Homo sapiens: one gene and its partners. The protein of the gene in region 1 purifies or fractionates together with the protein of each later gene. This does not show direct contact. Each region holds a gene or a part of one and is shown in the gene's direction. Other genes may lie near its edges.

Region 1 (10,730 bases):
TTCCCAACTTGGTACTTGTTTACAGCTGAGTCTTAAGGTTTGTTTTTTTCTTTTGCTTAAAAAACTTCTACAGCTGAACCAATAGTAAATTTTAGACACAAGTAAACATGTATATATATATATGTCTATTTTGTATATGCTAGCACTGTACTAAGTGATTTTACATATATAACTCATTTAATGCTCATATCAGTATAAGGTATGTATTACATATGAGGGAACTAAGGCTGGGGATGTTAAGTAATTTGCATAAGGTCACAGCTCAGGTATTCTAACATCTTCTAAATCGTATAAATACGTGGCATCTGGTTCATAGGAGATGCTCTCTACATGCTGAGTGAATAAGCTAGGGTTAGTGAAGCATTGACTGATATGCAAGTTTAGGAGGAAAAAAATGAAGGATTCATGATGAATTATAAAGTGATTATTAGTATTAGGGTAAAATAGAAAAGGAGTATTACAGTATTAATTATGAGTAAAAGTAAAATAATTTGTTACTATGAAATTTCTCAATAGTTTCAGCGTAACTTCTCCAGAATACTAACTAAAGAGAGCTCTATGGACTTTGGAGAGGATTCTTAAGAAAACTAGGAAAGAATCAAAGAAATCAATATATTTCCCCATTTAAATTGAAATACTATTCTGAGCAACTTGAGTTACTCCAAAAGAAGAATCTCTACTTCAGATTATTAGGAAAGCCTTAACTTTAAAGATACAAATTTTGTGTCTGAAATAGTAAGGGCAGCCAAAGTACAGTGATACCTAGACACAAGCACGAAAACTACTTGTGTAACCCACCCTTTGTATGATATTAAATTGAACTGTGGAGATCCTGATTATAAAGAATTCTTGAAGAACTTGAGATGGTTAGCAGTCATTTTATTAAAATTTATTTCATCAGAATGTGATTTATTCAATATGTATTAGCTTAGTCTGAAAACTTAAATATACCTTTCTCTGAAGAAAATATTATAAACATAAAATTTGTATCCATTGAGAAAGAATGTTAAATTTAGATGTATTAAATAAATAAATGTCATTATTAGATGTCATTTGTGTATTTTTCAGAATCAGCAATCTAAGTCCAGAAGAAGAGCAGGGACTGTGGAAACAGAGGTAAATACATTGCTGTATTTTCTGAAGTATTTTGAAATGTATATTTATAAATGTGATATCCCTTCAACTTTGTTACTTAAGTCTTACCAAAATCAGTATTTTCAGTAATATTTTAGGGGAAGATGAATAACTTATCATTTGGTTTCTCTGTCCTTTTTACTCTAACTATTCTTATTAATGTTTGGTTTCAGCCATAAATCCTCTGCAACAATTCAGAATGAAACTCCAAAGAAAAAGCCCAAATTGGAATCTAAGCCATCTAATGGAGATAGGTAAAAATGAATTCTTTTAGTGTTATGAAAATTCAACTTAGTTGAATAGTTATGGTTGAATGCCAGTTATTACTAGATAAAAAAATAGAAACATGTATTTTCTACATTGACTTGAGTCACCTAGAAGAATAAACATAAATTAGTTTAAAATTTTTAGCTTAATTTTGGCAATAAGAAAGTGGCACTGAACTATGTTGTTCTATTTGGGAAATAAATTTGGGTTTTGAAGAAACAAATTTGAATGGAGAACATTATTTTTATCTTTATTCTTCAGTGAAACACAAATCTAATTGTGATATTTTAAATTGACCTGCTTAGAAAATGTTTTTAGATTAAAAATATTATGAGCGTTACTTTGTTTTAGTTCATTAGCCAAAAGTTTGCTGATGTTACTGTACAAATTGGCTGCCTATTGCTTTACACTAGAAGTATTGACCCCCTTAAAGCTAATACTGAATTATATTTCTGCAGGTGTATGTAATGTGTGCCATTAGTAAGGTAATTTGCCAGTTGCATCCATTTCTGTCAGGTACATATTTTTTTGCATTAGCCTTAAGGATGTTTGTGGAATTGTCTAATTTATGCAATTTGAACACCTGCTAATTTTCCTTCTACTTCATTTAACTGTGTTTTACTTTTTTCTTTTTAGTAGCTCTATAAATCAGTCAGCAGATAGTGGGGGAACAGACAATTTTGTCCTTATAAGTCAATTGAAAGAAGAAGTGATGTCACTTAAGCGTCTCTTACAGCAGAGAGACCAGACCATTTTAGAAAAAGATAAAAAGGTAAGAACATGGTTCATTGAAGCCTGGTAAGAGTTATGTGTTGACTGTTGCTTGATAATCGCAAATTTTATTAGACTTCCTTTAATAATTTGGTAATGTTTGTTGTGCGTGATTTTTATAAGACAAATTACAAAAGCCCCTGAAGCCATCTAATGAAGATGGGTAAAAATGGTCTTTCAGATTTTTAGTTCTAAGAATTAACTGAGGCTTAATTAGGATAGTAATTTCCAAACTTTAATTTTCAGTAAGCATGTAATTTAAAAATAGATCTAATACCTAATTAAAAATGAGATGTAAATGGAATATTTCATAAACTTTTTTGATTTAAGAATGTAGTTTGAACAGTCTTTGATATAACATTCATATATTTGTATCAATCCAGTCATATATTTGTATCAATCCAGATCAAAATACTGCTGAAAAGTAATGGTATGGGAATTTCCTGTAGTAGTCAGTAATAGTAATTAGCAATAGATGTCTAAAAGCTCATTGTGTAGGAAGTAAGTGTACTTATTGGGACTTCATCAGTTAAATGAAGAGGAATATTAAAATGTGTTGTTCATTTAGTGAAAAGAGGAATATTAACAGAATTACAGAAGGATTTAAGGTCTTGTGCTATGAAATCAGGATGGCACAATAGTGGACAGGCATGGAACAGGAAACAGTTTTGAAGTAATTTAGCCATACTTAGATTCAAATCCTAGTTCTAACATTTTCTGTGTGACCTAAAGCAGAATGTGTGCTTCTTTGGACCTCAGTTTTCTCATTTAAATGAGAGCATTAATATTATCTGAAGTGATGGTTTTGATGATTAATGAAAATGCAAAGTATTTATTATAGCTCCTGGTATGTATAAGTGCCCATAGGGGCTATTACTGTTTGATCATCTTTTGTACTTGTTTTATGGTCCCAGACAATGTAGTTTGACCTGTATCAAATGTATTATGCAGTAGGAGAACACTAAAATCATTTCTTTTAAAAGAATAAGGCCTTAATATGAATACATATATGACTTATATCCATCTCTAAGTCTGTGCTGAGTTGGCTTTTACTTCTGGCATTCAGTAATTTTTGATACATTTTGCCACACCTTGATGGTTAGTGGGCTTAATTTATTTTAATACATTTGTAGCTTACTTTAAGCAAATTTAGTATATGAAAATTAGGAGTGACATATAAAATAGGATAGTTACGGGTGTCTTTGTCTTATGGTTCTTTTTGATTGACAGCATTTTTTAAATTAATGAGCCTTTATGGAAATTTGTCCTGTGTACAAAGTTTTAGAGACAGGCCAGATATATCTGCATTAGCCTTGAGAAAAGTTGAATAAAATGCCAACTTTACTGCAAAATAGCAATGATTTCAAAACCAAGTAGTAATCAGTTATAGAATATTGACTGCTAGATTTTTCTTTCCTCTCTAGCATAAGAGGTACTATCTTTGTATTGTGCAGTTAATTGAAGTTTTCTGCTTTTGTTAGTGTTCCTCTTTAAAAAAATCACAACACTAATGGGGATTGAAATTAGCATTGTTGTAAGGAAAATCCTAATGGTAAACCTAAAATAACTATACATTTGCAACTTTTTCTTATAAATCTAAGATGATGAAGTTATTTTACTGAATTGATTTCACAAAGTTATTTAATGATTTCTAGAGCCAGACACTGAACTAGATCATGAGGATACAAAGATGAATAAATAAGACATAATTCTTATTTTCCAGAAGTTCATAGTGAGGAGGCAACTCACAGTGTAGTGAATAGAGTAATTGTCTTAGCTGATCTGGTGTATGTTGGCATTTCAGAACAGAAAATCTTTTGTGATTAGAGAAAGTTAGAGAGAGAGAACTTAGTTATACTTTGAATTTGACAAAAGCAAGGGTTTTTTTTTTTAATAAGACTATAAGACTCCATGATTTTCTCTATTTTTGCTGTTGTATGTCTTTCAGTTTATTAGATACTGGGTAATTACAAAGGAGAATGTGTAAACCTTTAAAGCTGGCATAATGAAAAACATTAAAAAATAACCTGGAGTTCCCTCTGCATGGTTCTAATAGTGAAATTACATAATAACTTATTTAGTTTGAAGTCATGAGATATTATACTGTTAGGTATGTCATTTATGAAAAATTATCATGTAGCCTTCTTCCTCAAAGCACTGATTTTTTTCTTGTATTTGTCTAATTTAGCCCAAATTTTATAGTAACCTTCTTTCCTTTCTCATTCTGTGTTAGTTGTATTTCTGTGCTTTGTTCTCTATTTTTACCTCAAGTGTTAGGTGGTATTGTGTACATAATCCTGGACATAAATTAAAAAATGAAAACAGTGTAGCTTTTGGCTGAAAAGACCATTCCTTTTTATATTACCCAGTGTGAAATTTCTTTCTTTAAGCATTGAAAGATTATTTTACGCATAAGCTAGTTTAAATGTTTATATTGTTTTTACTATTATTGAAGTACATTTTTAAATGAGGCATTTTCCCAGTTATTAGCCGTTAAGCTTTTTTCGTTGGCATACCAGTTGCCAAACTCTATTTCCAGTCGAGCCATGTTTAGGAAAAAAAGAAAACTGAGAAGTTTTACTGATGGTCAGGTATTAACATTAAAATTATACTATTGTGAAGCAGATAGACTTCATCATTTCACCAAACAAACTTTAGATAGCTTGTACAATTCAGGAAACTGCAGTTAACATCTTCTACTTTTGTAATGAAATGTGAGTTTATTGTGAAAGTTATTTAAAATGGTGTGTGTGTGTATGTGTGCAAATATATACATATATTTTTTCTTTAATCTCTCAGTTAACTGAACTAAAGGCAGACTTTCAGTACCAAGAGTCAAATTTGAGAACAAAAATGAACAGTATGGAAAAAGCCCACAAAGAAACTGTGGAACAACTTCAGGTAACTACCATCATTTACGTAAAATGATAGGCAAGAAGGGCTAAACTTGAGTAATAGCATTCATTGACTTAGATTGTTATTGGTAGCCCTATTTTGTGCATAGTTGGTGCATTTCAGTTTTGATTTTGACTTTATAATCATTTTTAATCTTGATCTCATTAGAAGTTATTGTTTGAAATTACTTGAAAGGGGGATTCAGTACTTTAATCTTGAAAACTTTTGCCTAAACTTCAAATGGAGTTTTTGGAGGAGGGTATCATTGGAGTGTGTTCAATTAATTATTGGGCTTATAGCAAAAAATTAAAAATCAGATTAATGAAACTAAGGTGAAAAGCAGGTCTTCAGTAGCAATCATTCCTCACATTAATATTTCCTTCCAGATAATGGGAAAGGAGATGGGTGTATAAAACCAATTCTTAAGGACCTGGAGTGGCAAAAATGTGTGCAAAGCAAGAGAGTTTACTTAACCTGTGTACAGTGGTTCGCAAAGTGCCAAATAGGGTTCTGCTAAATGCTAACAGGTAGTGATCCACCTGAACCTCAGAGTACTGCAAAGTAGCAGTTTAAGTATACAGAACAACTGAATGGTAAAGTCAAGAGTCACCACAGTAATAATCTGATGTCTGGCATGCAGAGATGGTGAACATCCAACATGGATACAGAATGCTACCATATTAAGCTGCTTCTCTTCTAGGTTTCATACATTTAGAAATCAGACCACACTAAATTAATTACATGTTCTCTTTGATTTATACAGTCTCACATTTGTAAAATTAGTCTTTAGTAACAAAATTTTTAAGGTGAAAGAAGTTTTAAATGTTAATGGAAGATGGCAGCACACAGACGTCAGACTTGGGAGAGTACAGCTTCAGAAGGAAGGAGTTAATACTGTCCTGTTTCATTTTGTTTTTTTTTTTTCACATTGTAACACCAAAGGATATTTGCTATTTCTTTCTTTTGGTTTTGTATTATTCATACTTCTTTGCAAGTAGCTTAAATTAGTAGGATTTAGGAACTTGCTCAAATTCGAGGTACAGATTATCTGGTCTTAATCCCTATCATACTATTACAAAGACTGTTGAAAAAGGAACCTCATGTAGAACCTGAGACATAGTAGGCATTCAAATAATTTGTTGACTAGGTGGTGATTTATGGAAATGCCCATCAGCCCTCTGTTCTGAGAGATTGCCCGTATCATATATCAGATTCTTATATATTAGTCAATGTTTTTATCCACCAGCAAGTATTATTTTTAATTTTATGTTATTCCTGTTTTTCTTACTCAGTTATTAATGCTGAATGATTACCTGGAACAAAATCTTCCACCTGGTGATCTTTGATTTAATGTAATGTAACCAAAGCTCTGAAGTAAATCCAGAATGAGATAACAGAATAACTGCAATAGGTGCTCAGATATGTTTTAACTTAGTGCTCCCCACTGTTCAAAAGAGCAGTTTGTGTGTTGGTTTTTCTTTTTTAAAATCATAGTTGCAAATACATGGGGTCATCTTTGACTTAGCCTGATAGATATCTTAGGCCTACCTCCTCTTGGTAATTGAAGTTTCATGTAGTATAAAAGTAACCAATATTTAAATAGGACATTTTGACATGATTTTACATATGCTGTCTTACTTGTTGCAAAAACTGGGTTATGTGATATGCCCATTTTACAGAGGAAACTGTGATCACACAGTAAGCGGTGACGTAGAAATCTCTGTCTTCTCACTCCAGTTTATCTATACTTTTCCCTGTCCTACACTAGTTCCCACCACTTCAGGTTCCTCAGGTTTTCTATTTCATCCTTCCTATCAGGCCACTTCCCTGATTTTTTTGTGTTATGGCTAGAGACAATCTGTCATAGCTGAGTGCCATCTTTTTACCTCACTTCCTTTAGCAACCAAGTGATACTAGTAGGATTCTTTACTGAGGTGAGGAAACCGGTAATTTTTTTTTTATCTTTATGTAATAAGGAATTGAATCCTGTGACACAAGATGGATCTTGCTCTAATAGCTAGTAAAATATTTTTAACTGCCAAACCTACGACAAAACACTGAACATCACATGAAAAAATTGTTCAAAATGTCACCCCAAAATACCCCAAATATTGAAAATACTAAGAATATCAAGTTAAAACTCTTATTCACTTAATTAGGTAAGTGGTTAAAAGGAAAAGGGACCTAACATTTGAGTGCCTTCTGTGTACCAGGAACTGTGTTAGGCTAAGTGTTTTATATATTTGATAAGTTCCTTCAACTCATTTTGAGTTCGGATGGTGGAGTTTGTGTTACAAATGAGAAAATATGCTCCAGGTTATGTAGCTGGTAAGTAAGCCAGGATTTAAAGCAGGATCTATGTAATTCTTAATCCTGATATTCTTTCCTTTGCACCAACATGTCTAAACTTTAAAACTTAGCTTTCTTAAGAGTCTGTAAAGAATTTCATTGATTTTTTTTTTTTTTTTTGGCTGGCTGCAAAATGAAGTAATTTTAGGATAAAACAATTTAAATGTACATATATTGAAATATGGCATAAAATTCATTTTTAAAGTATTCAAATTAGAATAATTTGGACTTGTACTTAACAATTGTGTTATTTATTTACCATAAAGACTTTTGTCTTATGTAATTTATTAAGAAATATCTTTATTAGTGATATAAATATATTAAAAGCAAATTGGAAATTAGCTACCAAAGCATTAAATGGAAAAATTGCTTTGAAGACCTAATGTTCAAATTATTGTATTTTGTACTTAAAATATGAAAATTATAAACACTTTATTTCTTGATAATTGAGATAAGAACTTGGAGATTCACATTTTAACTATTTTGTATCAGTATAAACATTTTTAGATAAATATAACTTAACAGATCTAGTGGAGATCTTTTTGAGTCAAATTTGCAGACTCAAAATTTGAAATTGATACTGAATTTGAAATTGAAGTTTTTCGTTACCACCTTAGTTATTAATAACCACTGAATAGGAAAGTTCTATTGATCATGCATCTGAACATAAAAAATTATTTGATTTGCACATATAAGATAGTACTGAGAATATTTGCATTTTAGAGGTCATGGGTGTTAATTAGCAAGAGTGATTGGAGAAGAAGGGTGGGGGAATGGAAGAATAAAGTTTGAAAAAGGTTATTTCATGAAACCACTTTAAGATGGCATACAGAGAAGGCAGAGTGTTATCTGCCCGTAAAAAGCTAAAATTAGAATAAAATATGAAGTACTGAGATTAAAAAAGTCTGTCTATATAATAAAAATTCCTGGAACCTGTGAAGGAAAATGGTGTTGAAACATAAGTCAGAGGATATCTTTTTAAAATGTGTTAATTTTAGGGCAGTGCTCTATTTTCATCACTTTCCCCATTTTGGCTCAAACTACAAAAATGCTTGATCATTAATGTATTTGTATATATAGGGATCCTTACTATCTAAGTTTTCATATTTAAGAGACTGAATAAGGTGACAAAGGCAGTCAAAATGTGAAAATATTCACTGTACTTACACATTCCTCTTCACTAAACTAGTGATGGATGGACATTTAATAATGAAATTCAAGTCAGATGATGAAATGAAATTTTGAATCTTTGTAAAAATTCAAGCTTTCATGAGATAGGAAATGATGATGTGGAACTGCTCAAACCACACTAAAATCAGTGTCAGATGACTGGTAACTAAAGGAACAACAAGATAATGAGTGGTTCTGATGGGTGCTTTAAAAAAAATTGAATATCATTGGGTGCATTTGGCAAAGTAACAAATTCTGAGTTGTTTTTGCAAAAATGACCTCTTATGCTTGTTCTACAAGAGAGTAAACATAGAAAAAAGACCTTATACAGCTTGCCAGGAAATACTCCTCCCAAATCTTGATTCATTCTTTGATTTTATTAATTGTAAATTACAACTTATTTTCATAGTTTTCATGTTTTTAAGATGAAGGGCCAAACACCTTTTCCCTATTAAAATTTGGACCTTCTTTTAAGTGGATTCACTTTGTTTCCTTTTTTGTAACCAATTGTGCATCTTTGGACACAATTATATTAATAATGACATATACAAAGGGGGCTGATGAGCCAATCTAGAATTTTCCTTCTGCATGTTCATCCTTAAAGAGATGAATGTAAAGGTATCAACTCTTTCATTTAATGTTAGTGCTTTAGTGAAACATTTATATAAATGAAAACAGTATTAAATAAGTAGTATTCTTCAGCATGACTTAATAATATTTCAAACATTTTTAATCTTGAATGTTTTTGTCTCCCACAGGCCAAAAACAGAGAACTACTCAAACAGGTCGCAGCATTATCAAAGGGTAAAAAATTTGACAAAAGTGGAAGCATACTAACATCTCCTTGAGAAAGTCATTTGTTTAGCATTTCTTCTTACAATGTAAATTTGGGGAAAAAAAATTCTGTGAAGCCCTTAAATTCTGTGTAGTAGAAAAATATTTTTGCACACCAAATGAATTGGTGTGTTTCCTGTTCACTTTTGTAATTGATATACAGCATTTTTTAAGTTGTAAAACATTCAAATAAAACTTCAACTGGTTTGAAGTAACTTTTTAATTATTTGATATCCAGGAACTTTTTTGCCAGCAATAGTATTAAACAGTTGTAAAGGAGTGCATGAGTAGTGCTCTTTATGAAACGCAACATGCAATAATAGAGTAGGTATGGTTTCAGAAGTCAGAGCAGCAGGGTTTTTTTGTTTTGTTTTTGTTTTACACTATGCTAATTTCAGACAAACAGTTTTCAATTTAGAAATACAAAAACTTTTAAACTCGAAAAATGGCGAACACTGGTTTTTTGGGAATTGTGTTTTTACTTTGCATCAAGATGAATTTAGGAGAAAATCACGGTGCTTTTATTAAATGAACTTCAGATATATGTAAATTTGTTTTTTAAAGTTACATCATTAACATTAGTAACCTAGCATTTTCATTATTGGTATAGGAATTAATGTTTATTGTACAGTATCTAAGGTAAAATGTGTTTCTGTTTTGTAAAAACTACTGTAGATTTTTACTTACAAGTGCCTTTTTGCCACCTAATGTTTTTATTTATAGGAATGCTGATCTTTTGTACATACATTTTGTTTTAAAATCATGTTTAATAAATGTTTGTATATAAATGCATATGTACAGAAGCCTATTTCAAAAGGAAATCAAAGTTGCTAGTAAAATGTTTGAGATTACATTTAGAACTAACTGATAATGCATATAGATTGTAGAAAATTTTGTGATTTGTTTCTGTGTGATAAGGGAAGCTGTTGGTCTTTGAATTCATTTAATTATGTCAAAATAGTTCCCCAAAGATTTAATTTTAAGTTGCTTCTTAAAGAGTAATTTTATTTTTTATGTCATGTGGCTTCATATTAGTATTGTGTGAGTTACATGTTTTGCTTTATATTTTATAAAATTTTTTAAAAATTTTAATGTTTCTGCAATGATCCATGTATCTGCTTTCCCTATGTGTGGTTATCTAAGTTAATATTTATGTACAATGTAATTTGTAAATTTAAAGCAAATCTGAAAAAAATTAAATGATCTTTTTAATCCAATCTGTGATAATCTTTGAATAAATTGGAATCTACTATAAGATTCAGGCATTATAAGTAAATTGTCCTAAAGTCTTTAAAATTGTCTATAAAAGG
Region 2 (10,546 bases), on another chromosome or scaffold:
GAAAGCCACACCTTCCCCCACCTCAACTATGCTCTGCATTCTACCAGTTTTTAATTCTTTTTTCCCTTGCCTCTCATTGCCTGAAATAAGGCATTGGCAAGTAAGAGGAAAAAAAGAATAAATTTAAGTCCTTCTCTATCCCAACCCAATATGCACCAGTCTATAGAATTACGATTAGAAAATTGTGTCTATGGCATGTATCACACAACACAACCTCTGCAATTTATTAGTGCAATGTGTGCACCTAAAGTCTCACCCAAACATGAAAAAGCCCTGAACTTAGCATATTTAGCTAAACAGCCCGTACTCCAAAGTGATATGATTTCAGACAACCACACAAATTTGAACTAGAGTAGGCAGAGTTACTTTATAAGATCTTAATGGAGATAGACACAGCTAAGAGGATTATAGTGTAATAATTTTAGGTAAATGAAAGAAAATACATATGTTTGGTTTTGTCTGAATCAGTCTTGTGATTGTCTCTGTCCTCCACATTGAGCTAATGAGATGCCAGAAGGAATCTTACAGATAGATCATCTCTCACAGAAACTGGGATCCAGCGAGGGTGGACTTGCTCGGTAACACACAGCTAGTCAGTGGCAAAGCCATGACACCAGCTCCTCTGACTTTGAAATTTTTATTTTTTTCTTACAACATGACATTCATTCATAATAAGGAATGAGAAATATACACTCATGTTTTTTAAAAACTGAAAGGAAAGCCACAATATGAATCCAAAATACTTCAAATATAATTATGAATTAGTCTGAAAATGGGGACATTTTAATCTATTTATTTACCATGTTCTATACTAATATAAAAGGCAGATATCGGAATAAGGTGGAAATGACTACTCGGGAAAAAATAAACCTTAGTTCCCACTTTAAAAACAAAAACAAAACAAAACTGCAGACTAGGAAGTCTGAGCATGTGAGAATACCATTATAATCTTTTGTACTCTTTCCACTGGATCTCAGTGTGACCAAAAGAAATGGGCAAATGAATTCTGAAGAAGATTTGAGTAAAAGCCAGAAGGTAATGTATCTTGTGAATTAAAGAAAATCAGTCCTCATAGAGTCAAGAGGTAGGGGAAGAAGAACGAAAGGCAAAAGCACAAGCCTAGTTCCCAAAGAATGAAGAGATCATAGAAATGAACAGGTGGAGTTAAATCCATATAGGCTGGGGGCTCTTCCAGCTCTCCTTGTTTCCTGGTTAATTAAGCAACTGTAAAGGAGGAGAAAAAAAAATCTCAGCTTTACTCATGGTTCTGTGTGCTTCCCTCATTCCTAAATTTAATAGATGTGGGTAGGAGGTGGGATTTAAGCTGTATCAGTCTTACCTATCACCACAAAGCTGTCAACCTGTGAAAGAAAAAACATGGAGAAAATACACTTTGAAATAGATTGCTGAAGCAATAGCTCATCAGCAAGCCCTGTCAGCTGTACCTTCAAACAGATTCTTATCCTTACACTAGTTCTCTTGTCTTTCTTCTGGATTACTGCCCCTCATTCAGGTTTCCCTGCTGTTACACTCGCCCCACCACCAACCTCTTAAAAATGTAAAACAGATCAAATCACTCCTCTGCCCAAAGCTCTCCAAAGACTTCTCACTGCATTTAGAATAAAATCCAACTCCCTACCACAGCCTACAACTCCCTATTACCCCCTCCCACAGCCTATAAGGCCTACATAACACAATCCCTACTGGCCTCTGCACCTGCATCTCCCTCCAGGAACCTGGAAGCTCACTACGCAGTCTTAACCCCGCAGGTCTTCATCTTCTCTCCTAATTATACCAAGTTCCTTTCTACGTGGTCAAAGTTGTGATAGTCAATACCCTGTTAATAATCTTAAGGATGTTTCCTGGTCTTGGAATGCTCTGACCCCAGATTTTTCCATGGCTAACTCCTTAACATTCAAAAATAGCTTAAATGTTAACATCTGGTCGCTCCTGATAACCCAATTTAAAGTAACATACCACACACAAATAAATATCACACCAGTCTATGACTGTGTTTTACTGTCTTCCTAAGTTATCTCTGTCTGAAAAGTATGTTGCTCATTTACTCGCGCTGTATAACGCTTCCATCCTCTCAAACATACACATTTACTCGCAGGTAAACTCCTTGGGAATTTGGACTTTGTCTTCCTTTGTTCCTTGCTGAATCCCCAAAGCCTAGAACAATGCCTGGTACTCAGTGGATACTGACTGTTTATCAAACGATTGATTTTGTCTATCCTAAACTTTCCCTAAACCTTGTCTCTGCCATGCATTTTCCTAGTATTTGTTCACTATCACTTCTCTTCCTGTCTGTTCCCTTTCAGAATTTCTTTTGGTCTCCATTTTGCTTATAACAACACTGAAGAATTACAGAATCAACAAGGATAAAAAAGAAGGATGTTAATGCTAATAGAAACCCACTCAGCCTATGCTACTGGCAGTGGGGCAGAAGGGCAAGTAAACTGCTTCTTAAGGGCAAAAGCCCATAGAGTCAATATCACCCATTAGTGCAGCTCTGAATGAAGGGCAACATCAAAAGGAATTATGGAGGTAGACTCTTTGTGACCTAAAAAAGTACCACATGCCCTGTAGACACTCAGCAGTTCTTACAAACTTTTTTTTGAGAGACAGTCTCACTCTGTTGCCTAGGCCTGGGTGAAGGGGTGCAATCATAGCTAACTGCAGCCTTGAACTCATCAGCTCAATCAATCCTCCTGCCTCAGCCTCCAGAATACACTACAGGCGTGTATCACCATGCTCAACTAATTTTTTAATTTTTTTTTTTGTAAAGATGGGGGTCTTGCTATGTTGCCTAGGCTGGCCTTGAACACCTGTCCTCAAGCGATCTTCCTGTCTTGGCCTCCCAAAGTGTTGGGATTACAGGCATGAGCCACCATACCATGCCTGCCTGGTTCTTAAAATTTTTAATGTGCAAAAGATTCAGATGCAGTAGGTTTTGACGTGATCTGGGAATCTGCACTTTTGACAGACACTCCCAAGTGATTCTGATACAGGCAGTCTTCGGAAACTTTGAACTCAGGCCAAAGGATGACTAGCAAATTACCAGGTAAATGGTTTAAGCAATAATCTTTTTTATCTCTACCCTGAAGCTGATTCTCAAAACAAGTCAAATTCCATTTCAATACTTGCTTAGTATTATTTAAATTCATTGGTCTTTAAGTACAACTTATAGCCATTTTAAACCTATAATAGCTACTGTCATGGGGCAGCTACTATGTTCTACATAGTGTCATCAGTGATTTACACAGGTATATTATCCCATTTTATAGATGAAAATTTTGAGCTTCAGTTAAGTAAGTGTGGACAACCATTAAGTGCAAGAGATCTGCATGTTAATATAGTCTGTGTTCCATGGAGTCTATACTTACCACTAATTATACCCTAATAGAAGTAAAACCAATAAATAAAAGTCCATATTTGTAAATAAAGGAAGGGGAAGAATTTTACTCTCAAATACTTCTCACTTTAGAAAAAAGACTGTATGAAATTTATTTATCAGCTTTGAAAGTACATTTAAATAACGTAACAATGGCATGGCAACCTCTAAAAATGAATCAGTCTTAACAATCCTTTCCTAAAGCAAATAACCACCCTCTTAACTAATGAAAGCTGGTTCACTATTTACAGCTCTACCAGTGGTTCTCAAACTGAGCTAATGATCAAGAATCGCTTGGACGAGCGCCGTGGCTCACGCCTGTAATCCCAGCACTTTGGGAGGCCGAGGGGGGCGGATCACGAGCTCAGGAGATCGAGACCATTCTGGCTAACATGGTGAAACCCCGTCTCTACTAAATATACAGAAAAAAAAATTAGGCGGGTGTGATGGCGGGCATCTGTAGTCCCAGCTACTCCGGAGGCTGAGGCAGGAGAATGGCGTGAACCCGGGAGGCGGAGCTTGCAGTGAGCCGAGATCGCACCAGTGCACTCCCGCCTGGGCAACAGACCCAGACTCCGTCTCAAAAAAAAAAATAATAATAATAATTGCTTGAGGAAGCATCTTAAATATAAATCATAGGGGCAACCCGCTGTGGTCCCCTTCCAAGCTGTGGAAGCTTTGTTATTTCGCTCTTCACGATAAACCTTGTTACCCCTCAAAACAAACAAACAAACAAACAAAAAAAAACCACACACAAAAAAATAGGCTTCACTCCAGTTCTTCTGAATCAAAATCTCTGAGGTGTGACCCCAAGATCTTTATTTTTTAAGCTCTCCAGGGGGTTCTGATGAGTAGGGTTCAGAACTTTTGTTCCCTTAACACCGGCATTCTACAAATGAATAAATTGAGGCCCTAAAAGGGTAGGATTTGCCTAACGACACACAGCTTGTAAGTACACACAGTAGGCTGGAACAACAATATCCTGACTCTCGTTTGGTGCTTTTACACCAATTCAAGCTGCTGTTTTTGGTAAGACTGTACTTATTTCTGCTCTGCTGCTCATGCTTTGCTGGGTACTTAGTATTCACTATCCTACAACTTATTCCCTCATCTGCAATCTGGGAATAATAATAGTGCCTGCCTCTTAAGAGTTGCTGCAAGGATTAAATAGTATAACATTCATTATATAATGCACTTAACACAGTGCCTGGCATATTGTGAGTACTCATTAGCCAGGTTATGTAATCCACTTTAAAAAGTATGCCTATTTTAACTGGAGAGGATTCACTGAACCACTCCAATTACAAAATGTACAAGAAACCCATGTTCAGCTTTGGAATCCAAAAAGACTTTAAACTCAGGGTTAAGTTTAAAGTCATAGTATCTAATGTCTTGCTTTTCTAGTCATTTACTTATGCCAAAAGTTAGTTCACGCCAAGGAGAAGGATGCCTCTGTGTAGTGAAACAATTTCACAATTACTGACTGAACTGACTGTTGCACACCACTATTTCTCCTAGGATGCCTCAGAACCATCTAGTAACTCCATCTCTGGGTGACGACAGGGAATCTGCATTTATAAAAGCCCGCTCCCCCTTCTCAGGCAAACCAAGATTTGATAACCACTAGTATGTTCAGAATCCACGACCACTGTAAATGGCCTCTCAAGTCTCTCCAGCAAAAAGCTATACTGCTCTGTAACCAGAAGAGCAGCGTCATCAGGTCCTGATGCAAACAACAGCTGGGCCCAGCTGGGCCCAGCTGGGCCGAGTAACCTTGATGATCACAGAGGACGGCCTGGACCCCCTCCCCTCCTAGGAAACACAAAATTATAAAAGCGCCCTCCTGCAATTCCCGTGGGAGACAGTGCTGCCTAGGCCGCTACGAGGAGCTAAGGCTGACTCAACAGCCTCCTTCCCAGGGGCAAGGCCAAAGGAAGGCGACCCTGCATGGCTAACCAGGCCCCAGCGCGGCGCCAGAAGGTTAACGACCCTCCCTGCCCCTTTCCTTATGAAGGCCAAGAGCCTCCACTACTCCGGGGGCCAGCTGACGGAAGTGCGTCACTCCACCCTGCGGGGAGTGCCGGGAGTTGTAGTCAAGTGGCTACTAATCTTCCACCCCGATTCATCTTTTCTAAAACAAGAAAAACACCTCTGCATCCTGAAAAAGATCGCTTTATGCCCAACATGTGTAATAGTTCCTCTATTTTCCAATCAACAAACTGAACTATCTCAGAGCTCAAGCGGAAGGCCGGACTACAAGTCCCGGCATGCTCCGCAGGGTCCCCGGGCGCCCGGCCACCGTCGTAGGTGCGGGCCGCATGAATGGAGCGCCGGGCGTAAGGCAAAGCCTGGCACCGTCTGCGCGGCCGCTATCTGCTCCCGGAGCGTGAGTGCGGGGTGTGGGGCGTGCGCGTGCGCGCTCAGAGGGGGCTCAAGGCGAGCGCGCCGGGCAGTTGCGGGCGCGTGGCTGCTGAGGTTGGCGGCGGTGCCGCGCGCCCGACGGGCCGGTGGTTGCGGGGCCTCCCGCCTCGACCCGGGCTGGGGGCAGCCGTGGCGGCCGCCGGGGACCGCAAGGGGCGGAGGAAAGGAGGGGGCCGGTCCCGGCACGCAGAGGAGCAGCCGACCATGCCCCGAGACAACATGGCCTCCTTGATCCAACGGATCGCCCGCCAGGCTTGCCTCACCTTCCGGGGCAGCGGGGGCGGCCGCGGCGCTTCCGATCGCGACGCGGCTTCTGGCCCGGAGGCGCCGATGCAGCCGGGCTTCCCCGAGAACCTGAGCAAGCTGAAGAGCCTCCTGACCCAGCTCCGCGCCGAGGACTTGAACATCGCCCCGCGCAAGGCCACACTGCAGCCGCTGCCGCCCAACCTGCCGCCAGTCACCTACATGCACATCTACGAGACGGACGGCTTCAGCCTGGGCGTGTTCCTGCTCAAGAGCGGCACGTCCATCCCGCTGCACGACCACCCGGGCATGCACGGCATGCTCAAGGTGCTGTACGGCACCGTGCGCATCAGCTGCATGGACAAGCTAGACGCGGGCGGCGGGCAACGGCCGCGGGCCTTGCCGCCCGAGCAGCAGTTCGAGCCGCCGCTGCAGCCCCGGGAGCGAGAAGCCGTGCGGCCGGGCGTGCTGCGTTCGCGGGCCGAGTACACCGAGGCCAGCGGCCCCTGCATCCTCACACCGCACCGGGACAACCTGCACCAGATCGACGCCGTGGAAGGGCCTGCCGCCTTCCTGGACATCCTGGCCCCGCCCTACGACCCGGACGATGGCCGGGACTGCCACTATTACCGGGTGCTGGAGCCGGTCAGGCCCAAGGAGGCCTCCAGCTCGGCCTGTGACCTGCCTCGAGAGGTGTGGCTCCTGGAGACCCCACAGGCCGATGACTTCTGGTGCGAGGGAGAACCCTATCCAGGTCCCAAGGTCTTCCCTTGAAGCCACTGGCGCCCAGGAGCGGTGGGCCGAAGACGTGCCCTACCCTACCACAAGGGCTGTGTCTCTACCCCCTAGCCTGGGCGTTGGATCTACTGGAATGAGCAGCAGCCGCTTCCTCGGCAGCCTTGGGAAGCACGGGCGACTGGACAGCAGCCGCCGGGCACGGTTATGGGGGCGGGGTGGGCGGGGAGGCTAGATTGTTTCCTGGTACTGTCACTGCCACTGGGGCTTTGATTTGGAGGAATGGGGCAGGGGACTATCTGAAGCGCTTCCATCCTAAAGCCATAATGAAAATATCTTCCTCTCTTCCCCATTCTATACAAAATACTAAGTGGTTTTCTTGCTCCCACTCCCTACCCCTTAGTTAAATAGGGTTTATTTTCCACTCATGCCCTTATGCCTTTTTTTCTTATAGTTTTTTAACTTATTGACTGTGCATGACCCAGTGGTTTGAATTGTTTTTAGTTCAAGTCATTGGTAAAAACTAGGTTTAAGGAGATGAGCTACTGTTTAAAGTGAGCTGGCCTGCCTAATTAATTCCTTGTGAAAACTAAATGATTTTTTCAGTTTGGGGATCATTCTCACAACATAACTATGCATGTAGAGGACAAGATTTATTTTCTTTCCTCCCTTTGCCCAGTAGCCACATCTGGTTTACTCAGGCAGCATCTACTAAGAAATTCAGCACCTGCATATCTCTGTGACATGGTCACTTAGAGCTTATCTTCCCTATGAATCTCCAGATCTGTGAGTCGAGCAGATTTCATGTTGCAGATTCACCTTTAATGCAAAGACTGTATTATCCTCACATGACTTTTTTTCTTGTCTTACTGTACCTTAAAAGGTGATAGAGTAATTCTGTATTTTCTAACGGGAAGATTCAAAGGAGCTGAATGTGTTATGCTTCCAAACAACTGAATGTAAAACACTCCTAGCCAGTTGTTGCATTCCCTATATTTATTTACTTCCAATATTTTACTGTAAAAGTAGGGAGAAATATTATGTTGATAGTTGTTTCATATTCTCTCAGGAACTTTAATGTTCCCGACTCGGGTGATTCCAGCTGTGTTGCTGGCAGTGTTGTCTCAACCCTCTCCCTAAAATGACTGAGCCCTGGGTTCATCTAATGTGGTTTTCCTTAGGAAGAGATAGAAGGCACAGAAGATCACAGCTAGAGAATTGAGAATTAACTATACTACTAGCCATTTTAGGGCACCAAAACTTGGGATTAAACACTTCCTACTTCCCACTCCCAACTCCTGAAATGAAGTCTTGCTATCTGTGACTAGTTTTATTTTTGTGCTTTTAATAGTCCGAGCAGTCTTACCTTGTTTACACATGTATTGACACCATTTGCTTCAGGCCATGGAGCACTGTTTCTCCCTTTTTACTATTTATAGGATTCCGTTTTTTCACAAGACTTTTAATAAAAAGAAATTGTAGAAATAAACACATTAAAATTTGCCCAGCTGTCGTCTAAGCCCTCTTGATTGACTTGCCCAAGTGGCAATAGAGTTCTAATATCTATAATAAAGGGAGATTTGCTATTATTAGTGGAATGTTGACCCCGTATGTAGAGAAACAGTACGTGCCTTTGCCTCTTTATGCACACAGAGACCCAGGGTGAGGGAGTATTTGTTCCCAGTTTTTAAGATAGTATAAAAAAGCAAATACTTGGTGAGTGATTTAAAAATAAAACCAAAACAAAACACAAAAAGATATTCCACAGGACATGCCACTTTATTATAAAACCTGACACAGGCATAGTACCAAGTATTTCCTGCATTGTTGCTAAAATTGTTTTATTGTAGCTCCACATTCTGGTGTAGTTTAAAATGCCTTTGGGGGCAGTTTGAAGCAGTTCTTCATGCCACTTAGTTTGAAAATAAAATTCTAGATATGCAAATGATTTTCTTAGAAAACTTCACAAAATAAAAGATCTTGTTTTTTTTTCCATAGCACAGTAATGAATGTGGTTATCAATCACATACTTTTTTGGATTATATTGTAGCAAAAAGTTGATTAGCTTACCAAGATTATTAATAGCAATGTATGTGTTATAATACAACTTAGTACATTAAAGCTACGAAAACTCATCCTGGCTGTAGGATAGTAATAAAGGAAGAATTATGACTTCATTATGAAAAAAAGAAGTTTTAAAGTTTTCAATTACGAGCAATTTGGAAGAAAAAACCTAAGGTGCTTTTCAAAAGAGTAACTGAAATTGTTGCAGGCCAAAACAGCAATATGATATCTCAGATTTAGTTCAATAAGAACAGTGAAACTTTTGGTTCACTAATAAATTCTGAGTAAATTAGTGGTGAAGACAAAATATAACTTGTTTTAGTGAGCCACTGAGGAAAGAATATGCTTATTACAAAGACAAAATGTGGTGCAGAAACTATCTTGCACCTGTGTGCATAAACTGTTAGTCGTGACTGACTTGGTGTGTTGCTATTGTGTTTCTATATACTCCGTCCAATATAGATAATGTTTTAATAACAACTGTGGGATAAAAGTTATCTTCCCCTTGGAAAGACTAATGAGCACAATGATATTAATCACTTTTATGGTGAATAATAAATGCAATAATTGCCTCATGGGTGAGAAATTGTCTGTCTAAATGCTTCTGAAGCTTTTAAAGTATCTGGTTCTGTCACTGGCCAGTTATATCAATGCAGAGTATTGTGTACCTACTTACTATTTTATGAGAATTGATTTTTACTAAGCCTGATTTGAATGGGTTGCATTTACACCAACTGCTATTTATTAATGAAAGTGGTAGCCTGCTTTTTAAGTAATATGTGTTTTGGCAACAGGAGAGGGTTTTCTGAGCTTTTAACACCAGTAACCCTGAACTTCTTCCAAAATCCACACCTTTTATTCCCCCTTTTCCTTGTCTCCTTCTAGGTGCCTCAGTCCTGGCATCTCGGGAGGACTCTGCCATTACTCATCTGTTACTGATTCTGAATCTTGTGCTCTAGCTCTACAGCCCAGTGAAGAAGCAATATATCTTTAATTCAGGGCTTGCCTCTTGCTTTCCAACTCTAACCTGAGAGCAGTGCTACTTTTGTAATTGCAGGTCTAAATAACTTAAGCGTATATACAGAAGCCAATCACTGATCACTTCCATTGCAATGAGGCATCTGTTGTCAAAGAAGGAAACCATTTGTCAAGTCCCTTATAGATATTGAATCTTCAAACCCAAATCTGGGGATGTTTACATTTCTGGATTAAAATCAGTGTACCTGTAATCCCAGCACTTTGGGAGGCTGAGGCAGGCAGATCACCTGAGGTCAGGAGTTCGAGACCGGCCTGGCCAACATGGCGAAACCCCATCTCTACTAAAAGTACAAAAATTAGTCGGGCATGGTAGTGGGCGCCTGTAATCCCAGCTACCTAGAAGGCTGAGGCAGGAGAATCGCTTGAATCCGGGAGGTGGAGGTTGCAGTTAGCCAAGATCATGCCACTGCACTCCAGCCTGGGTGACAAGAGCAAGACTGCATCTCAAAAAAGAAAGGAAAAAAAAATCAGTGTACTTATGGAAAATGAAGACATGTTTCAAATTGTTTAGAGATAATTCTTACTTGATTATTGCAAGACAGATAGGGAAAACCTTACCTGCTCTGATGTCTACAGTTTGATTACCATGAAAGGTTCACAGTATATACTGTAAGATTATGTTGTACTAAAATCTAGTGGCCTTCTGCA
Region 3 (10,730 bases), about 26 Mb from region 1:
TGCAGTGCGTATTACCCCAGGGTGTGTGCAGAGAGATGTAGTTTCCGGCAGGTATAGGAGGGGTGCAGCTTCATTTTACATCTGGATAAAAAACGGGCTTTCTTTAGTGTATCATCAGTTGGCAGTGGAGGCGAGCACCCTGCAGTTGCGGTACACTTACACAGAACAGCACGAGGTGGGGGTTTCCACACTTAGCATTATTAGCACAATAAAAGTGGGCAAACCTGAAAGCTTGTCGACTATCTCTGTACAGTCAGACAAGAGGTGTGTGTATGTGTGTGCGTGTGTAAAGGCTGAATTTTTAATTTTTAATTTTTGGCGAGCGTGTGAGATGCTCTCCATTCCTTCTTCCCCACCCTTCAAGATGCTGACTCTCCCACCCCCGTCAAGATAACTTTATTTTGGAGAGGAATACCCCTCATGGCACTTGGAGATTTGAAAGGACTGCAGGAAATTTGGTGGGCATTATTATTCTATAAGTGATTTATTTCTACCCAGGCAATAGGTTTATTAGATCATAAGTAACGTGAATTTCACTTTTATGGTCAGACTTACTGCGAGGAATTGCAGATGGAGTTTGTAGGTTAGGATCAGCACTGGCAAAATTAATTTGACCGTGTTATTGCCTCATGAGACTCCCAGTCCTGCAGTTAAGATTGACATCAGCAAAAGTATAAGGTCGGTGGGGGAGAAAAAGTAGGACCAGAGGAGGGGGTAAATACACTTGTTTTCTAGAGTCAAATTGTTCCTTTTGAAGTAGAAATTATTAATAAAAGATTACCCTGAGTTCTGCCTTTTCTCACTAATTTCACTTTAGCCATTTCTTCAGGAAATACAGAGTTAAATGTTCAACCCTTGGATCCAGGACGAACCTTGTAAACATATCACCCTATTGTGTCATTTTGTTGGTGAAGAAACTGAAGCGTGGAATGGTGAAGTGACTAGTCCAAGGTCATACCGGGAAGGTGGCCTGCTCTCTAGTTTTTGTCTGCATTGTCTCAGTGACCTTTGCTTGACTGCAGTCACCCTGTCTTTATGCAATGCTGCTGAAATACCTCCTTTCTAAAATAAAATAGATCTGGTATAAAGGGGGAAAGGATGGTGGTGACTGGGTGGGAGCGTTGGATTTCCCTCCACTATTGGTCCCTGGGCAAGAATGTGTGCCCCAGGGCATGTAACTAATGGTGGCCACAGGCTGCAGGAACCTGCATGCTCAGTTCCTCTTGGGCCCAGATCCTTGTCCCCCTGTCCCCACCCCATATGACAAATATGTGTATGAACAAAAAGAAGTCATCAAGGTCCTTGCTCTTAACAGCGACACCAGCATGGGGCTGATGGAGGGTGGGAGAAGGAGGAGGAGTGGCCCACTTCTTCATTGGGCCTCCGCAGTCAGCCCAGCTCTGCTGTGCTCTTGAATCAGCATTCTGGGAACTGGGAGTTGGGGGCTGGTGGGAGACAATCCCTCCCAGTGCTCAGGTCCCCTGAAGCTATAGTTTAGGTTGAGGAAAAAGTTTTCTGGTTTCAAAAATATGTGTACATGTGCCATTTCTTTCTTGGGTTTGGTTTATGAAAAGCTCCAGGGGATGTGGGGCAGGTTGGACATGAACTCTGTTCTCACTGGGAGTGACTCCCAAACCCTGGGCTTTTGAGTTTCTGGGCCAGCCAGATTGAGTTTGGTTCAGCTGAAGGATGGAGAACTAGCAGTCAAACTCATAATGAGGAATTCCTAACCGGAGGGTGAGGGTACAAGGGTGAGATTTTTCTTCTCTGTGGCTGCCTTCCTATGCCATTGTTGCCTCTTGCTCTGAGGTTAATAAGAAGTGGAATTAATTTGAATCTGTAAGGATTTGAGTCAGATAAAAGGAAGAACTTCCCTGTACTGGGCTTTCTGCCACAAGTTCTATCTGGTGCAGACCCTTCAGAATGCAAGCACAGGTTGGTGACTGAAGGGGTTTGAGGTGCCCCTCTTGGAACTCTGGAGTAACTAACATCTATTTGGAATGATCTTTCTAGCAAGGATGACCATTGCCTCTGTGTTTCCCTGGGGCAGACCTGGTTTCTAAGTTGTCTCTGGTGGTTATGAATAGCACCCCCTTCACTCTCAAAAGTGTCAAGATGTGACAATAAATTATATGGTCCTACTTTTAGCCTTAAGCCAAGTTCCACTTTGTAATCACGACTTTCCCCTTCAACGTTTAAACCTAAGGAATGGTGATGTTTTCCAACAGTACTGCTTGACTTGAGTGTGGTTCTATGGAGGTGCAGTGAGCTGGGGAATAAAATTTCATTCCTGCTTTTAGGAAATTTACAATTTAAGGAGGAGAGCAAGCAGATGCAGATACAGGCATGTCAATGTACCAGGATGGGAACCAGGAAACATGGTCACAAGAAACCAGCCACAACTCTACAATGGTGTGATAACGGGCTGTGTGACATGCAGCGCATGGGAGATGGAGAGATAAGGGGTGGTGGGCTCAGACACTGTCCAGCTTCTTGCCCTCTGACCTTTGAGTGAGGTTAAGAGGACACTGGCAGCACAGGTTAGGGCTGGAAGCAGAAGCTGCCTGAAGGAAGCAGGCCTAGAGGCGATGTTAAGGCCACCACCTTCAGGGAGAAGAGAAGGGAAGGCTTTCTAGGGGAATACTTGCATCTGAGAAAGAGCCCTGTGCTGGAGTCAATGTCGGTCCTTTTTCCTCTGCTTCGCTAATGTCTTGGGTAAACTAGGCTTGGTTATTTTGACCATTTTCCTCCTCAGTTTCTCTAAGGTGGGGAGACCGGCTTCTGCCATGATTACTTAAAGGCACATTTATGATACTGAAATGTGATTGTAGGGGTGAAAATAATTTGCTGGCAGATATCAGGACTTTTCTGCCCATGTTCAAGGCTCACGCCTGTAATCCCAGCACTGTGGGAGGCCGAGGCGGGTGGATCACTTGAGGTCAGGAGTTCGAAACCAGCCTGGTCCACATGGGGAAACCCCGTCTCTACTAAAACTACAAAAATTCACTGGGCGTGGTGGCAGATGCCTGTAGTCCTGGCTACTCAAGAGGCTGAGGCAGGAGAATCGCTTGAACCCCGGAGGCGGAGGTTGCAGTGAGCCGAGATCGCGCCATTGCACTCCAGCCTGGGGGACAGAGTGAGACTCCATCTAAAAAAAAAAAAAAAAAAGGCAAAGTTTAGAAGTTGAGCCCCTTCTTAAAGGCCAGGTCCAAGAAGAGGGATTCCCTAATTCATGCCACACTGAATTTCCTCCTGATTTCTCATAAGCTCTGTCTGTCTGCGCCATCATACCTGCTTTTTCCTCTGCCTGAAATGATCTTCCCCAACTCTTGTCCTTGCCTGGGAAGCTCTTATTCCATTCTTTAACATCCAAGGAATACCTCTTGGTATTCTCAGGCTATGGTGGGAAGAGTTTCTTCTGAGCTTGGAGGCAGCACTTACTGCCTTGTGTTAGAATTGCTCAACTGTCTCATCTTCCTGTTTGCTCCTTGAGGGCATGGATCAAGTTCTCTTGTGTTTCCCTGGCACTTGGGAGGCCCTTAATGAGTATTTGTGGACCAGCCACACACCTGGAAGAAGAGAGGCCCAGAGGGTAGGAAGCACATTCACATTATATAAAATGTATTTGTAAGGAGGAATACAGTGAACCCACACATGGATAGTGAAAATGAGATGGCTCATTCGGTAGTGAGGATGCAAGCGGCATGGCCTACAGATAGTGGAGCCCTGATTTGCCTGTGCTATATGGGAGTTATTTTCAATGAAGAGCTTGGATTCTATTTTACAGAATCCTCCCTTTTAGGGCTATCATTCTGGTTTATGCTAATGGTATTGTTTTGGGGAAAAATCCTTTGGAATAAAGCACAAAGCCTAACAGGATTTACAGGTTTATTTTCCTTCCAACAAGCTCTCTCTTCATAATTCCTACATTTTAGAAGCCAGGGAGTATTCAGTGTCCTGATTTGAGACTGAAAATAAAGTGTCTATTACAGCACAAGGCCCTGGGACAAAAGGCCTCCTTTGGGGGTGGAATACCGTTCAGCTTTAGATCTCTTTTGAGTAGATTCTTCCATGATACACTTGCTTGGGAAAGAATTGGCTGGTTGATTCTGAAGTTAGGATGTTTGACCTGTGTGCTTCCAGAATAAGATGAGAAGGCAAAGAATGTGCTGCTTCAGGTTGGCTTTTATGTAGCTGAAGAGTTGCTCGGGGCCTTGGGTTGGCTCAATAAGGGACGTGACCTTGAAAAGCTCTTCCTGGTTCCACTTGGCGTCTTTTCTTAGGGAGCTCTGTGCCCAGTCTCTGGCCGCTTTTAGTTCATAAATAGCTTGCATGGTTAGAGGCACAGAAGGTGGAGGCTTTGCGAGGGGGAAGGAATGGAGGAAAGGGGTTGGTGAGAAGAGTAAGGAGGCGGAATTTGGAGGGATGAAATAAAAAGCTGTCTGATTAGGTAATGCACGTTTACAAAACAAAATTTGTACAAAAGCGTATGTGGTAACAAATTTCCTTCCCTCTCATGCCCCCTGTTCACCCAGAGCTCCTTTCCGGGTGGCATCCGTTGTTATCAATATTTTTGTATATCTTTCCAGAAACAGTCTATGCATGTACAACATGTATGTACATAAAATTGGAAACTTGAATTATAAATGGCTTCCTGTTACCTGTAGTCCCTGGTATCCTGAATAATGAGATTAACTTTAGCTCTAAATTATATTTGTGATATTATGATGGTGAATTGTTAGAAAATTACCTGAAGTATCATAATATAAAATAGATGATTACTTTTTTTCCAGGCCAGGTGAGAAAAACCTCATTCTCCTTTCACTTCAAGCGTTCTTGCAGAGCAGGAGAGCAGCCTGATGTAGCCCCCTTGTAACTTGGAGAGATGCTGGAGCACAGTTCCCTTGAGATGTGGAGTCCAGGCTTGTAAGAGCATCAGAATACAGTGATCATGGATCTTGGTTTTAATTTGTGTTCTGTCTGAGAATGTTTTCTCTATGTTCTGTAAAATGAAGTTAATGGTATGCTTAATAAATTGCTTTGAGACTTGGGATCCACGAGGCAGATCCTTATAGCAACGAACATCCCAAGGCAAAAGGTGGATGTTGTAGGAACATTTCATTGTCAGATTTTGGTCTGTTCCTCCTTAGAGATGACAGCCATCTTCATAGTGTCATTGTTGAATCCCAGGGCAGAGATAGTTGGAGCCAGCTTTGTTCCACCCACTGTAATGGAGGGACACAGGGGGCAGTCTTATCATAATCTGGAGAGCAGGTAATCCAAAAAATAATCGATTTGCTTTTGCTATGTATTTATGTAGTCTTTTTTTTAAAGCATTCGTTTACCTTCCTAATTAAGTTTTGCTCAGGTGAATATTAAAATGAGTTTGCATTCTTTGATCTATTGATAAGGGAAATGGCTGGCCTAAATGTATTCAGGGAAAGGCAGTTTGGAGTTTAGAATTTGCGACAATAATTCAGATGCAGATAATTGAGAGTTGATAAAAATGTATTAAATGTTTTAAATGAATAAAAATGTATTAAAACCTGGGGGCATTACATTGACCTTTCCTCCATTTATTTGGATTTAAATAAATGTGATGGAAAGTAAAAGAGAGCTCACTGCATTTTTGGTTTGAATATTCAGGGATTAGTATTTCTCCAGAGGTGGTCTGGGCTGTGGGGGTGAGGCATTCTCTGTTGATGAGCATGGGACTTTCCTATGCATTTTCTAGGTATGCCAGACACTGTTGGCAGATGGTATAGTCAGTCTAGCCACGTACATGCAAAAATCAATTTCCCTCAATTTAAAATGAGCCACAGTTAATTTCGACCTAATTTATTGGCTTATCGACCTGTGAACCCTGGGCCTTCGAAGAAGTGGCATGGGCGGCCTTCAAGCGCTGAAGTGGCTGATGAAGCTAAAATCCAGAAAAGGCAGGGTGGGCTGCTGAGCAAGATCAAGATTTGAGTTTCCTCCTGTGTTATTGTGAGATGCTCAGTTTTTTTTAACTGTAACATGACCAATGCTTTGTGCATTTTATGGTGGGTTCCGTAAAAATAGGACTGCGTAACGATCACAAGTACACTAGTGTGTTAAAAAATAATTACAAAGTTCTGTTATCCACTGGGTAACTGTTTATTATAATGGTAACATCCATGCCCATAGCACTGCTACTAGCCAAGAGCTGGAAGATCCTATCTTCCTGGCCGCGTCCTGGACCCTCCGATGTGGCACTGTTCAATAGATCTTTCTGTGATAGTGATGTTTTCTATCTGTGCTGTTCACCATGTTCACTAGTCAGATCTGGCCATTGAGCAGGTGAAATGTGGCAAGTGTGACTGAAGACTTGAAGTGTCTTTCATTTAATTTTAACGAATTTAAAGTTGAAATAGCCACATGTGGCTCTTGGCTACTGTGTAGACAGCACAAGCTTTGACAAGGCCTCTTCTTCCCACCTGTAGGCAACCTCTGCTTCACCCAAGAGAGAAGTTCCTGCAAAGACCTGCTCGTGTAGGCAGGGCAAACAGGGCAATAAAAGCAAGAGTGGAGGGCTTGGGTCTAGACCCTAGGTATTGGTGGCTGCTGACTGCCAAGTTGAGTGTCAGGAGACAGTGGTCCTTCTTTCCTAGGTAGGAACTCACCAGGGGGACCGTGGAGGGCCAAGTGGGTCCGGTGGTTGGCTCTAGGGCATGCCTCTGCACAGTTGCCTCCTTCTGTCAGTCACTTAGTCAATGAAGGCTGGCTATTCATAGGGTGAACCAGATCTCTGTGGCTTCACTTCTCATCTGGCCTTGCGCAAACACTGCACTTGTATCGGGCTTTGCTAAGGTGGAGCGCAGACCCTGCACGTTCTGTTTAGCAATGAAAGATGTAAACAGTGCCTTAACAGTGGGGCCATCTCCCTGCCCTGCCCTTTGCTTCCTGTGCTTTTGTTGACTTACCTTGATGTAGCTGGGTCTGTCTTTCTTCCCTTCAACCCTCCAGATTGGCATGAAGACAAACACTACAGGCGTGTGGTCTTCATCTTTGCATATAAACCTCCCCCACTTCTTGGCTGACCTTTTAACTTAGCTTGCCATTGCTGTTGCTGCTGCTGCAGGCTCTTAGCTTGGAAAATCAGGACCCTTCACAATGATTTATCTCCAGTCCCCTGAATTAGATTCAAAACACAGCTACGAATTCTCAGAAAGGCAGGCTGATGTGATTATATCCCAAATCTGAGTGGCTGACAAGGACAATAAAAAGATGTACCTATATCAAATGCATTTGTGCCGTGTAGAGACCAATATGTTGTTTATTATCTCCCCCCCTTTCTGGGGGTTTTTTAAATGAAGAAGGTAACTGATGTGACCTCTATTATTTAGAAGAGAGACTAGCCTGTTGAGTAGAAACCCTGGGGGAAGATGACTAGGGTGAATCTTACATGAAATAAATGTGGGGGTGAATCAATGGGTGGGCCCTCAGTTGGGATTTTAATATTTTAGGGATACTGAGATGATTTCCTTCTGACTTTGGGGGGCTGGTGAGCTGAGGTGTAGTGTCATGATGAATTTTTTTTTTTTTTTTTTTTGAGACAGAGTCTCGCTCCGTCACCCAGCTGGAGTGCAGTGGCTCTATCTCGGCTCACTGCAACCTCTGCCTCCCAGGTTCAGGCGATTCTTGTGCCTCAGCCTCCTGAGTAGCTGGGATTACAGGTGCGCACCACCACGCCCGGCTAATTGTTTTGTATTTTTAGTAGAGATGAGGTTTCACCATATTGGCCAGGCTGGTCTCGAACTCCTGACCTCGTGATTCACCCACCTTGGCCTCCCAAAATGCTGGGATTACAGGTGTGAGCCACCGTGCCTGGCCTTGGTGAAATTTTTAACTCTGTGCCCAGAGGCATTGGAAAGGCTGGTATGATCTGGTTGAGCCTGGAGGGCCCTGGGTTAAGAGCCACCTGTGGAGAAAGGCTAGCTTGGGGACTGTGGCTGGGAAGACTTTAATAGGTACCTGTGAGATAGCAAGCTATAGGGTTAAGGTCCCAGATAGTTAAGGACCCCATTTCTCTATTAGCCCAGGAGACACATGCGAGACAGTTCCACCTGTCTCTGCCCCAGGGACCTGGGGAGAAAGGCCAGTGCTGATCTGCCCAAGGATCTCAGCCAAGGAGCCCGAGATGGCAGGGAGTGGGGACAGAGCAGAGTGGGGTGAGTGTCCTGTGAAACCAGAAGTGTTTGGAAGGACTTGCATGCTTTGAACCTGTGCTCAATTAATTGAGTAACCTGAGACTCTGTACCTATGACTTACCTCATCTGTGTACATTTAGTTCCCTGAAATTCTCTCACTGAGTGGTTAAAAAAAAAAAAAATCTGCAGTTAACTGTGCACATGGTTTGCTGAATTTGGCAAGGTGTGCTGTTGGTGGTGGTGGTGATGGGTGGGCTGGAGGGGGACGGTTACTGCAGAAACAAGGCCTTCAATCTCTAGAGGAGAAAAATGAAGCAGTGGATGTGGAAAGTTGGTTAGAGGTGAAAGAGCTATCTAAACAGAGCTGGGGGAGTTTAGCTAGCAGACCAGAGCCTGTGGGACGTCCGCCTGTTGCCTCACCTCCTGGTAGCCCAGAGGGCATCTCCTATTACTGAGAAATTGGCCAAGCCATGGGTTTAATGCACTCCCCCTTCTCCATTAGTCTTGTTTATAGCTGCCCTCACAGGGTGGTGAAGAAGCCACTGGTAGGGTATAGAGGCCTTCGGTTCTGGGATGTAATGTTTACATGCTTTTCTCTTGGAGTTAGGAAAGTGCTAGAAAACAGTGTCGCCTCTGGGCTGGAGCCTTGGGACCTGGAGGTTGGGTTTCCCCAGGTTTCAGAGTTCGGCTGGGAATCAAGGAGAAAACTGCCTGTGAGTTTCAGTTAGGCAGGAGCTCCTAGCTTGACTCAGGCGTGCAGTGTTTTGTCATTTTATATATGTCATCGCTTGCTCTTAGGCCTTTCGCTAATGTTAATGTTCTATGTGGAGCCGTTTTGTGAGGAATGGCTTATTTTGGTTGAGAGGCATTTGGTAATGAAAAGAAATGATGTTTTAGTGCGTCGAAGTTTATGAAATGACATCCACAGGCTGCATCTCATTTGATTCTTACGACAATCTTGAAAAATGGGGAAGATAAGAATGATTATTCATCTCATTTCAGAGATGAGTATCTTGAAGCTTGAAAAGGTGAAGTGACTTACCCGTAGTTAGACAGGTGGTAAACCGGAGAGAACAAGACTCAAACCAACCCGCTAACTTGTTTCAGATTTATGCAGGCATATTTGTCTATCCTAAGTAATCTAGTGAAATTTTTGATCTCAAGCAGGGATCCACAGCTTTTTTGCAGTACTTTTTTTTCTCCACCTTTAAAACCTGGAGATCTCACATAATTCCACTTTCTCCTGGCCACACTGATCTTGTAATTTTTCAAACACAGCAAGTCTCAAGGCCCTTCTCCTTCCTGGCTTCTGCTCTGCCCTGCCTTAGGTCTGGGTCCATGTTCTCTGCCTCACTTTTCCATCCCCTTTTCCCTAACTCCTCCCTCTTCATCCTTATGGTGTCAGTACATAGGTCAGGTCTTCAGTGAAGCCTCACTCTCTCCCCGATATGAGGTTAGGTCCCCTGTGTAACAACAGTAATTCAATCATCATTCCTGGAATTAGTTGTTTAATGCGTGTTTTCCCTACTATATTCAGAGCTATGAGGCAGGACCTAGAATCGTGTTATTTTTCTTTCTTTTTTATTTTTTGAGACAGGGTCTAGCTCTGTCGCCCAGGCTGGAGTGCAGTGGCATGATCATAGCTCACTGCGGCCTCGATCTCTTGGGCACAAGCGATCCTCCCACCTCAGACTCCCTAGTAGCTGGGACTACAGGCATGCGCCACCAGGCCCGTCTAGTTTTTGTATTTTTTGTAGAGATGGGGTTGTGTCATGTTGTCTAGGCTGGTCTTGAACTCCTGGGCTCGAGGGATCCACCCGCCTTGGCCTCCCAAAGTGCTGGGATTGCAGATGTGAGTCTGCCATTTTACTAACACCTAGTATAGCATCTGGTATATAGTTAGTGCTTGATAAATACTTATTGACTGAACGCGGTGAGGGGCTATTCATGGTGAAGCTGCAGAGGGCAAGTCTGTGGTCTGGAACCATCCTGAAGAGCTGTGAGAAATGACTTTGGGCTCACAGGGAAATCCTCACGTAGGGCAAGTCCTGGCTTGGGGTGCGCTCTCTTGAGGGGGTATTTGCTGTGCTCACTCTGACTGTGTTTCCTGCACATGGCCGTGTGTTTTCAGGCAGTGAGAACCACCACATTGCCTTAAAGTCTGTCTCTGAGCTTAATCTCATTTGCAAAAGGTGGCATTTCATTTAATTGTTCTCTGAGATTCTTTCTGGCTTTGATATTTTCCTCATTTTTTTTTTGCCAACTGGTAAATTAAGGGGTGATATTATGTTCATGAGAAAGAGAGTTTTCCACAGTTTCTTTTTAGTAGGGAGCCCCTCCCAAAACAGCAAAGCATATTCGCTCATTGACAAAGTGGGTTCACCAGGACAGAGTGGCACACAGAGGTAAACAGTAGATAGGTTCTCGCTGCCAAGGATCAATCAGAAAGGGAAATAAGCTCTCTAAACTGATATTATAAGGCAGTGAGATTATGATTATCATCCTTTTAGCAAAGAGAAAGGAAAGGGCATATGTGTATTTTTCTCTGTAGAATGGTCA

The links.
Region 2: the proteins of FAM76B (region 1) and ADO purify together in Homo sapiens (affinity purification with mass spectrometry; 3 studies listed by BioGRID and IntAct, with this or other methods). This does not show direct contact.
Region 3: the proteins of FAM76B (region 1) and SORL1 purify together in Homo sapiens (affinity purification with mass spectrometry; 2 studies listed by BioGRID and IntAct, with this or other methods). This does not show direct contact.

What each region holds. Positions count from the first base shown.
Region 1 is NC_000011.10:95,770,265-95,780,994, reverse strand, and holds part of FAM76B (protein FAM76B), read left to right. Parts: intron 1-1,046; coding exon of another isoform or gene 1,047-1,068; coding exon 1,069-1,116; intron 1,117-1,307; coding exon 1,308-1,388; intron 1,389-1,859; coding exon of another isoform or gene 1,860-1,869; exon of another isoform or gene 1,870-1,917; intron 1,918-2,037; coding exon 2,038-2,173; intron 2,174-4,971; coding exon 4,972-5,073; intron 5,074-9,344; coding exon 9,345-9,434; 3' UTR 9,435-10,730. UniProt on the Homo sapiens protein: Negatively regulates the NF-kappa-B-mediated inflammatory pathway by preventing the translocation of HNRNPA2B1 from the nucleus to the cytoplasm.
Region 2 is NC_000010.11:62,799,038-62,809,583, forward strand, and holds ADO (2-aminoethanethiol dioxygenase), read left to right. Parts: upstream 1-5,682; 5' UTR 5,683-6,022; coding exon 6,023-6,835; 3' UTR 6,836-9,442; downstream 9,443-10,546. UniProt on the Homo sapiens protein: Plays a vital role in regulating thiol metabolism and preserving oxygen homeostasis by oxidizing the sulfur of cysteamine and N-terminal cysteine-containing proteins to their corresponding sulfinic acids using O2 as a cosubstrate.
Region 3 is NC_000011.10:121,452,842-121,463,571, forward strand, and holds part of SORL1 (sortilin-related receptor preproprotein), read left to right. Parts: exon of another isoform or gene 1-126; intron 127-10,730. UniProt on the Homo sapiens protein: Sorting receptor that directs several proteins to their correct location within the cell. Along with AP-1 complex, involved Golgi apparatus - endosome sorting.